2 separate regions of the Homo sapiens genome follow, and region 1 is linked to region 2. Evidence: fine-mapped expression QTL. A gene starts in region 2. The other region holds a variant in brackets. All regions are shown on one strand. Distances are from middle to middle.

Evidence for each region. PIP is the estimated chance that this variant, and not a neighbour inherited with it, causes the effect.
Region 1: its variant is the best candidate, but not a certain one, in a credible set for the expression of IL4R in whole blood (TOPMed, PIP 0.82).

What each region holds. Positions count from the first base shown.
Region 1 is chr16:27,347,853-27,352,852 of GRCh38, forward strand. It overlaps IL4R (interleukin 4 receptor), which reads left to right. Exons shown (of 11, transcript NM_000418.4): 7 at 4,688-4,844. Among named protein-coding and RNA genes, the nearest start is that of IL4R, 36 kb to the left of the region's middle. The variant G/A (reference allele first, on the strand shown) is at 2,164.
Region 2 is chr16:27,311,069-27,316,584 of GRCh38, forward strand. IL4R (interleukin 4 receptor) reads left to right here and starts at 2,906. Exons shown (of 11, transcript NM_000418.4): 1 at 2,906-2,952. RefSeq lists enhancers at 97-1,296, 2,119-2,849 and silencers at 2,627-2,926, 2,947-3,156, 3,597-3,646.

The DNA.
Region 1 (5,000 bases), 37 kb after region 2:
CAGGGCTATGACAGTACAAGGTGTGTGATACAGATGAGCTCCCCTGTTTGGCCCACATGTGTCCTAAAAGCCATGTGCCCTTTCTCTTGAGTGCCCCAGGCCACAGAGATCCCCATCTGCCCGCTGTCCCACACACTGGTCTGTCATTTGTTCCTTGAGGTTTGTGAGGGCCGGCTCTGTGCATCCCAGGGGCCCAGGCTGGGCCTGGTTGGCTCTCAGGGAGCAGGCACCCGCCACCTTAAGCTCCCATGCTGGTGTCTGTCACTGCTTCCTCTCAATCTGGCCAAGCCAGGGGTGTCGATTTATATCTCTCAGGTCTGGTTTCCCCTTTGGCACTGGGCCAGGTATGGGGAAAGAGCAGGAATGGGGCAGTTGGCTCACACAGCAGAGGCTCAGAAAGCGGGGGGCATGGGGGGAAGGAGTGCACAGATGCTAGAGAGTGGGGCAAGTTTTGTTTGGTCAATAAATCTCCTTCTCATGCCCCAGGCCTGTGCAAGACCTACAGAGAGTCCCAAGGATGGGCTGGGGGGAAGAGAAAGGTACCACCTTCAGAGTCCAAAGATATGTTATTTAATATTTTCATATTTCTAGATCTGCCTTCAGGCATGGCTGGATCCAGCTTCTAGGAACCTGTCCAGCTCTGCGCCCTGCTTTATTCTGTACTGGCTTCGTTTTTAGGCAGGCTCTTCCCTCATGTAGTGGCAGATATGCCTACTAGTTGCTCCAGGCCTACATCCCAAAGCCACAGTGGGAAAAGGGTTTTTTTTCTTGACGGTTCTAATAAGAGTCCTAAGGCTGCTGCTCAGTGGCCTGGCTTCGATGCTGTGCCAGCCTCTGAACCAATCACTGGCTGTGGGTGGAGAGAGGGTGCTGGTGGAGGGCCCTGCTTGTCCAGGGAGGAGTCACATACCTGCCTCTAGGGCTGCAGGTGGGCTCAGCTCCATCCAAACCAGATGAACTGAAAATAAGGCAGGAGTGGCTTCCCCAGGGGAAACTGGGGAAGAGGAAGCAGGACTGTGCTGGCTAAAATGCCAGCCAGGTTTAAGACGTGGCACCAGATGCCAGTCATGGGATTGGATTGGTCAGCATGCCTGGGCTATGGCTTAGGGGTATGTTGGTGCTCAGGGATGCCACAGGCCTCCAGATACCAGGTCTGAGGCAGAAGAATGAAGTCCAGCTTCTCTTGTGGGTGGAACAGTGGCAACTGAGATACCCCATCTCTCCCTTCCCAAGAACAGAGCTGAACATAAAGAATTTAGTGATTGGCCAGAGCTTGGCCACATGCTCCCCTCTGATGAATGATAGGCCAGGTGATGGGATTGGCACAATTGGCTTAGACTAATGAGGGTTGGCCCTGGAGTTGCAGGCAGTGGAGTTCTGTCCTAAGCAGTGGGCACCTAAACCCGATGGCATAAAAGCTGGGCGGGTGTCCACCTGCATCTGCCACAGCACTATAGGCACCAACTGTGGCTCATACTGAGTGGGATAAATTCCAGAAAGAAACATTAGGAACTTACTATAGAATTTTGGGGCTAGAGCTACTCATTCATTCCCCTAGATAATTTCTAGGCAAGGTTCCATAGTGGAGGGGGAGTTTTGGCTTGGGCATTGAAGGATGCATAGGAGTTTTCTAGATGGGGAAAGAAGGGAACGGTAGACCAGGCAGAGGGAACTGCATGATAAAAGGTTTATGGGTGTGAAAATTCATGGAATGTTTGAGGATTATGGGGTTGGGGGATGTGGGAATATGTGTAGCGATAAAGCACCAAACAAAGCCAAAAGTTTAGTTAGAGCCCTGAATGCCTGCCTCATAATGGTTTCCATATTTTATATGCCTACTATGTGCCAGGCACATTGCTCAGGGTCACACAGCTGGAAATGGCAGGGCTGAGTTTTTGTTGTTGTTGTTGTTGTTGAGACAGAGTCTCACTCTATCACCCAGGCTGGAATGCAGGGGCGTGATCATGGCTCACTGCATCCTTGACTTCCTGGGATCAGGTGATTCTCCCACCTCTGCCTCCCAGGTAGCTGGGACTACAGGCACAGGCCACCACGCCAGGCTAATTTTTTGTATTTTTAGTAGCGACAGGGTCTCGCCATGTTGTCCGGGCTGGTCTGGATCTCCTGGCTTCAAGTGATCCCCCTGGCTCAGCCTCCCAAGGT[G/A]CTGGGATTACAGGCTTGAGCCACCGCATCCAGCCCAGATCTGAGATTTGCACCCAGTATTTGAACTCCCAAGCCTGTGCTCTTTTTCCTCCCATGGACATTTCTCTCAGAGATGGTCTCCCAAACACCTGTCCTTCTTGTTAAAAAACAGACAAACCGCAAGTAGTTCTTTGGAAGCTCAGATTTCTCTTTTGTTTCTTAGTAAAACATTTCCCAGTTCCCAGCTCCCTTCCAGGGTGTAAGATTTCTTCGGTAACTTACATCTAGCTGTTGCTTCTTGTTTGCTCATGTTTAGAAAGAAAGACAAAAGAGAGTGAGAATTTTCTCTCCCTTCCCCAGTCTCCCCACAACTCACACCCCACCCTCAGCTCCCTCTGTAATAGGAAAATCTCTGAACTCTCTGTAGTTGCTCCAGCAATCTTTTGGAACTTTGCTTCTTTCTTGTGAAAAAACCTCCCCTTGGCTCACTTTGCACCAGGTTTCCCCAAATGTGCTTCCAACCACAAGCAGAAATGGAGCTGCCAGTAACCAGGAAGAAACTGCCGGGGGCTGAGGAAGAGGAGAGGGAGGTGCATAGCCCTGGATCTCGCAGGGAGAGGGGTGACAGGATGAGAACTCAGGTTGCTCACTTGCCATCAGGGTCAGTCATGAATATAGCGTTCATGTATCACTTTTTAAAGCTTTTTTGGAGGGTAAAAGTAATAGTTACACAAAATAAAAATACAAATGGTACAAAAGGACTTAGAATGGAAACATGTTTCTCTCCCGACTCCAGCCTCCTGTTTTTCTTCCCAGAGACTGACCACTGCTGTCTGTCTCTTGCCAGAAGGGAAAGGGAGGCAAGGTTAGGGCAGGCAGAGGGCATGTGCATCCTTTAGAGAGAGCTTATGTCTATACAAGCAAATGTGTGTGTTCAGTCATCGCTGTCTTAGTTTTCTATTGCTGCATAATAATGGTACTACCAGCTTCACAGCTTTAAACAACACCCATTTATTATCTCATAGTTTCTGTGGTTGGGAGTCTGGACATAGCTTAGCCAGGTTCTCTGCTTTAGAGTCTCGTGAGGCTATAATCAAGGTGTGGGATGGGGCTGCAGTTTCATCTGAGGCTCAATTGGGGAAGGGTCACTTCTAAGCTCATACAATATTGGTGACATTCAGTCCCTGGCAGGCTGTTGAACTGAGAGCCTCAGTTTCGTGCTGGCTGTTGGTTGTAGTTAACCCTGAATTCCTTCCCATGTGCCCTTTGCAAAGCCATCAAGGCAGAGAGACTTGCCTAGCAAGTAGGATATTACAGTCTTCTGTAATATAATCACATCCATGAAATCCTCTATATATCCCATCACCTTTACCATATTCTGTGGGTTAGAAACAAGTAGCAGGTCCTGCCCACACTCGAGAAGACCAGATGACACAAAGATGTGATTCAAAGTGGGGATCATCGGGGCCATCTTAGGTTTGTCTGCAGTGATCACTGTGCCATCTCTCTCTCTCTCTTTTTTTTTTTTTTTTTTTCCGAGACGAAGTCGTCACTCTGTCACCCAGGCTGGAGTGCAGTGGCATGATCTCAGCTTACCACAATCTCTGCCTCCCAGGTTCAAATGATTCTTCTGCCTCAGCCTCCTGAGTAGCTGGGATTACAGGTGCCCGCCACCACACCCAGCTAATTTTTGTATTTTTAGTAGAGACAGAGTTTCACCATGTTGGCCAGGCTGGTCTTGAACTCCTCACCTCAAGTGATCCACCCACTTCGGCCTCCCAAAGTGCTGGGATTACAGGCATGAGCCACCATGCCCAGCCCCATCTCTCTTTAAAAAACAAACAAACAAACAAAAAACATAAAAAGAAGCAGAGAACACATACACATCTGCATCTTCCCTTGTTTACTTAACAATAGATCTTGGAAGTCACTTCTCAGTAGAGGCTAGGTTGGGCAGAGCATTGGATTCTAGGCCAGTGAGTTTGGACTTGACCATGGAGACACTAGGAAGCCCATGAAGGACAGAGAGAGATGCCTCGACCCTGCCAGTCCTTTAGAAAGATCACCCAGTGCTTTTTGTATACCAAACCCTATTTGAAATACTTACGTATATTAACCCATTTCCTTATCACCACAACCCTGCGGGAAGGGAGATAGGCACTTTTATTATCTTCATTTTGCAGATGAGGACATTGAGGTCCAGAGAGGTTATGTCACTTACTTAAGGTCACACAGCCAGGAAGTGGTAGTAGGGACTCTTACCCTTGTTTTACAGATGAGATTGAATTATCTCACGAAAACTCAGAAAGGTTAAACAACTTGCCTAAGTAACATACAGCTAATTAGTCGAGGAGCCTGACGCATGTTGCTGTAGCCTGGTCACAGTTACAGAGGTGGCAAGCAATGGCCTGAACAGGACGAACAACCAAATACCCAGGCTGGTGGCTCTTAAACATGGTGGGGTCAGCTAACGACAGCAACCAGGGTGGGCACTGGTGCCCCTCGCCCCCGGCTGGTGCCCTAACATCTCCCTTTTCTCTACCAGTTCAGAATCTATAACGTGACCTACCTAGAACCCTCCCTCCGCATCGCAGCCAGCACCCTGAAGTCTGGGATTTCCTACAGGGCACGGGTGAGGGCCTGGGCTCAGTGCTATAACACCACCTGGAGTGAGTGGAGCCCCAGCACCAAGTGGCACAACTGTGAGTATCAAGAGGCCTAAGCAATGGTAATCTCCACTCTCCATTCTTCCCCTGTGGCCAGACACTTCCCCTGGCTGAGTCTCTGGGCTTTTATATCATAGGATGCCTCTAATGGCAATCCTGCCATTAGATACACCTGCCGTGGTGTATCTGCCA
Region 2 (5,516 bases):
AAGGCAACAGGCTTCGACTTTGCTTCTTTCTCATTTTCATCCTGATAAGAACAGCAATTGACATTTTGAATGCCTAATCCACGCCAGGCACTATTCTAGGCACTGCGATACGTACCTTGCCATTTCACCATTTCATAGCCCTATGAGGTGGGTCTATTATTATCCCCATTTTACAGATGGGGAAACTGAAGCACAGGGAGGATGATCTACTTTGCCCAAAGTCACATAGTCAATACGTAGCAGAGTTGGTATGCCAATGCCGGCAGTCTAGAGGCAAGCGAGGAAACCGACGAAGGATGACTTGACTGGGAAAACAGGATGGGAGCCCAGTTTGGGAGTCCAGGAGGGGATATAGCCCAAGCCATACATTCCCAAAGGACTTCAAAGGTAGACTTTTGCTGTCGTCTCCCGATGACATGGGGCACAAACTCAGAAACACAGACAGGACAAAGGCAGCTTGCAGGGCTGAACTGCCTGGGATGAAGCATCAACCGTGTGGGTGTGCGGATGTGTGAGTAATGAGTGTGAGGGAGTATGAGTGTGGACGGGAGTGGAAGTCACACCTAATCCAGAGGATTCCTATTCCTCCTGAAACCCAAGCTTCCAGGAAAGCCCTTCCTGTGGCCTTCTCTCCCTAGTCCTCTTAGCGTCTGCCTGGGCTGCCCCCAGTACGGGGTTTATTACACTCAATTGCTTACATCTGTTCACTTCAATTGCTTACGTCTGCTCACTTGTCAGTGCCCCAACCAGGTCCTCAGGGCTAGGAAGCAGGGGCTGGATCTATTTCTTGCTCTCCCTAGCCCCCAGCTCACGACTTGGCATATGGAGGCATCCACAAACAGATGCCGAAGGATGGGAGTTTTTCCACACTCCCACGCCACCTCCAGGTATTTGCTCATGCTGTCCCTTCCACCTGCATGTTTTTCTGCATTGATTCAGGCACTGGTCAGAGGTCACCTCCTCCAGGAAGCCATCCCTGACCCCAGGGAACTGACTTATCTTTACTGTCACTTCCGGGGGTGGGTTGGTGGCTGTCTTGCTCACTTGGTTGTAAGGTCTCAGAGGGCAGGGATTGTGTCTGTTTCATGTCTTCAGGTCTGCGTCATCAGCGCTTGTCACAAGGTTAGACACACAGTAGGACCAAGACAGACCAAGTACATGAAAGAATGATTGACATATGGGCCAGGCGTGGTGGCTCACACCTGTAATCCCAGCACTTCGGGAGGCAGAGGCAGGCAGATCACCTGAGGTCAGGAGTTTGATACCAGCCTGGCCAACATAGTGAAACCTCATGTCTACTAAAAATACAAAAATGAGCCGGACGTGGTGGTGCACGCTTGTAATTCCAGCTACTCAGGAGGCTGAGGCAGGAGAATTGCTTGAACTCAGGAAGTGGAGGTTGCAGTGAGCTGAGATCACCCACTGCACTCCAGCCTAGGCAATGGAATGAGACCCCATCTTCAAAAAAAAAAAAAGAATGATTGACGTGCAGTGGCCCCTGCCCTGGGAAGCCAACCCTCACCCTCCACCACAGCACTTGATCCCATTGGGCAGTCCTTGGCTTCCACCCTCAAACTGAGAGCTCCTTGAGGGCAGCAGGGGGTCAAATTACTCTCTGGGTTCTCAGCACTGCCCAGTGTGAGTCCAAATATCTCCCACCTCCCCTGTCTCCGCTCTTTCCTCACTCAGGGCTCCACAGCCATGCCGGCCTTCAGCAATTCCTCCTGCAGGCTGAGCTGGTTCCCACAGGGCCTTTGCACTAGCTCTTCCCTCTCCCTACACAAGTCTTCCCCCATAGGCTCTTCAGAGTCTCAGCTCAAATGGCCTCTACTCAAAAAGCCTCTTCCAGACCACCTGCCCCACTGGTCTAAGAGGTCCCTACTTTCTTCTTGGGCCCTCCTGACCTGAAATACTTTGTTGAGTGTTTTCCCCCCAGTCATCTGGCTGCATCCGGGTTCTTATGGTGTCCAGACGTTAATGGTCTATGGGGCCTGTGTTCGAATCCCAGCTCCACCCCTGCTCCTGCTTACCTGCAGAGTGATTCTGAGTTTCTTTCTTTTCTTTTTTAAAATTTTATAAATGTCAATTTTTGTAGATAGGGGTCTCGCTAACAGGGTTGCCCAGGCTGGTCTCGAACTATGGGGTTCAAGTGATCCTCCCGCCTCAGCTTCCCAAAGTGCTGGGATTACAGGCATGAGCCACTTTGCCCAACCCATTTTGAATTTCTTAAGGACTCTGTGCCTCAGTTTCCTGATTTGTAAAACCGGTGATAGTATCACTCCCTTATAGGGTAGTTGCCAGGATTGAACGAGTTAACATTTGCAGTGCCCGACAGATTGTACTAGTTACTGATTGAAGGGCTGTTTTACTATCCAAATGTGGCTGGAGTAGGAGTTGGGTAAACATTTATTGAAGAATGTGCAACCACTCTCACTTGGAAGCCGGGCTGTTAGGAAGGGGAGGAGGATTCCAGTCGCCCAGCCCTCCCCCACCAAACGCAACTGCCCCGGCGCAAAAGAGGCCGCGGAGGCCAGGCAGGAGCAGGTCCTGGAGGCCTGGTCGGCGTGGGCGTTTTATTCCGAGACCAAGGGGATCCACTGCAGAGTTCTCCGCTGGGCGTGACCTCGGGCTACGGCGTGGGAGGAAGCGCGCGGCAAGACACCCAGCGAGGTGCTGGGGTCGCCCCCAGGAGAGGACGGCGGCTCGGACTGTCCGGCGGCGGCGGCGGGGACAGCGACAGGGGCGCGAGGTGGCCGGGACCCGGGCCGGGCGCGCCGGGCGGGGCGGCGCATGCAAATCTGCCGGGCGCCGGGGCGGGGAGCAGGAAGCCGGGGCGGGCTGGGTCTCCGCGCCCAGGAAAGCCCCGCGCGGCGCGGGCCAGGGAAGGGCCACCCAGGGGTCCCCCACTTCCCGCTTGGGCGCCCGGACGGCGAATGGAGCAGGGGCGCGCAGGTAGGATCCGGGGCCCGCGCGCGGATCGGGTTGCGAAGGTATCGCCCGGGCACGCCGGCTGAGGGCGTTCGGGAAGGGCTCGGCCGCCGGCGGGGACCACGGGGACCACCCCGACTCCGAGCGGGGCCCGAGCCCGCGACTCTCGGTGCGCGCGGAGCAGCGCCCGGTTCCGTCCTTGCCGCCGAACGGCAGCGGAGGCGCGAGGCCCGGGGTACGTGGACACCCAGCGCTCCCCAAAGCCGGTGCTGGCAGTGAGACCTCCGCCGGGACGGCCTGCGGGGGTGGGGGGCTTGGGGTTAGGCTGTCGGAGGCCACGCAGCCCCTCTTCTCCGGGCAGTGGCGCCCAGCCCTGCGCTCAGGAAGTCAGTGAGGACTTCGGAGAGAGAAAGGGTGGGGAAAGTTCTGAGAACTGTAAATTTGAGTAGTAGGTCAGTGAATCGGGGCGGTCTCCGCCTCCGAATATCAGATGGACCCAATAATCGCGATCATTGACTGGGACTTGTTTTACTGAAAGGATGCCAAGTGAAACCTCCCACTAACTTCTCTGTGGCCGGTGCTGTGCGTCATGGACATTGTACAGATGAGGTCACCAAGACCCCAGCCGCTTTAGTAACTTGCCCTAAGGTGCCGCCCACTTGGGAGTCCGTGGGGCAGCAGGACTAGAGCCCAGGCAATCCCACGCCAGAGCCAGCTGCTCTCCATCTCTCAATCACGTTTGAGGAGCCCCCACAATAACCAGAATCTCCGGGAGATTTGCTTAAAATGCAGATTCCCAGGTCCTTGCCCTGAGATTCAGATTCAGTAAACCCAGGAATCTGATCTTTATTTTATTTTTAAAAATTTATTTTATAAAGATGGTGTCTCACTATGTTGTCCAGGCTGGCCTCAAGTGATCCTCCCACCTCGGCCTCCCAAAATGCTGGGATGACAGGTGTGAGCCACTGAGCCCTGATTTTTTTTTTAAACAAAATCTGGATTTCTTAGACTTAAGCAAGATAGGGGACCACTAGTTTGTCTGCTTCTGGGGTTCAAGGAATGCCCCCAGGCCAGCGCTAACCCTGCTCCAGTTCTAGTCTCTCCCCTTCCCCAGCCCTCTGGGAGGCATGACCCACTGCACTTCCCTGCCCCCAGTAGCCTATGAGGAGCCCAAGGCATTTGCTGGGACCTCAGTGCCTTTATCAAAATCCCAAAGTCCAATGGGGAAACAGGCTCAGGTGTAGGTTTGGCCAGGGTGTCCTGCACATTAGGGCATTCCAGGGTCCTGCAGGGGTTTCTTAGAACTCGGCTAGCCCAGCCCATGAATGGGAGGTGACCTGCTAAGCCACTCATTCACTCACTAGCACTCATTCAGCTCCTGCGAGGCCCTGGGTGGTGTTCTGGGCACTGGTGCTTGCCTCAAGGAGCACCCCCTCTGCAGGAAGACAGACGTGAGGGCTGGGAGGGTGCGGATGCACCAGCGGCTGCAGGACCACAAGCCAGAGGGGATCAGCTCTTCAAAGGTCACTGGGCCAGGCTTCCCAGCACCCAGGGACCCTGAGCTAGCCTTGTGAGTAGAGCAGGGGAGTCTGGCAGGTAGAGGATGGGAGGTAAAGGGAGGCACAGAGTGGGCGGAGGCTGGGAAGTGTGAAAGGGCACTGTGTACAGAACCTAGGGAGTAAGCAGAAGCCAGAGATGGATGGAAAGTTGGGCTGGGCTGCATTGTGGAAAGCCTTGAATGCCATGCCAAGGAACTTGGGCCAGTGTATTCACCTTGGCTTGAGTTGTAAAAGCAACAATGCAGATTCCTGGGCCCCACCCTGGGCCTCTGGATCTGAATCTGGAGGGAGACGCTGGGGAGGCAGCAGGGAGGAAAACCTGCAGTCACTCACCCCATTTACAACACATGCAGTTACCGGCAGGTCCGAGATAACCTAAGGGTTTCCAAATGCTAGGAAGTGACTCAATGACTGATATGTTTAATACAATACAATCCCGGTTGCAAAATGCCCAGGGCAAGGGTGGGGGTGTTCAGTTTTCTAATGCTCCCAGTTCAAAAAGGAGCTGAAATGAATTGTCAAAGAAGTGACAAGCTGGGCGCAGTGACTCACACCTGTAATCCCAGCACTTTGGGAGGCTGAGAGAGGATCGCTTGAACCCAGGAGTTTGAGACCAGCCTGGGCAACATAGTGAGATCCTGTTCCTACAAAAAAAATTTAAAAACTTAGCCAGGCGTGGTAGCAGGTGCCTCTAGCCCCAGCTATTTGGGAGGCTGAGGTGGGAGGATGGCTTGAGCCCAGGTGGTCAAGGCTGCAGTGAACTATGATTGTGCCACTGCACTGTAGCCTGGGTGACAGAGCGAGACTCTGTCTCAAAATAAACAAATACATAAATACATGAGAAGAGAGAACCTTTTCTACCTCCCCCATCTCCCTGCCCTCTTCCACCCACCCCATCTGGGACGATGGAGGAGAGCGTTTGGGATTAGATGCCCCACCTCTCGACTGCCCTCACTGGTACCTGGGAGTGAGGCCAGGACAGAAGCCGCCTAAGTACTGTTCTTCCTCACATTTGTAAAAGTGAACTTT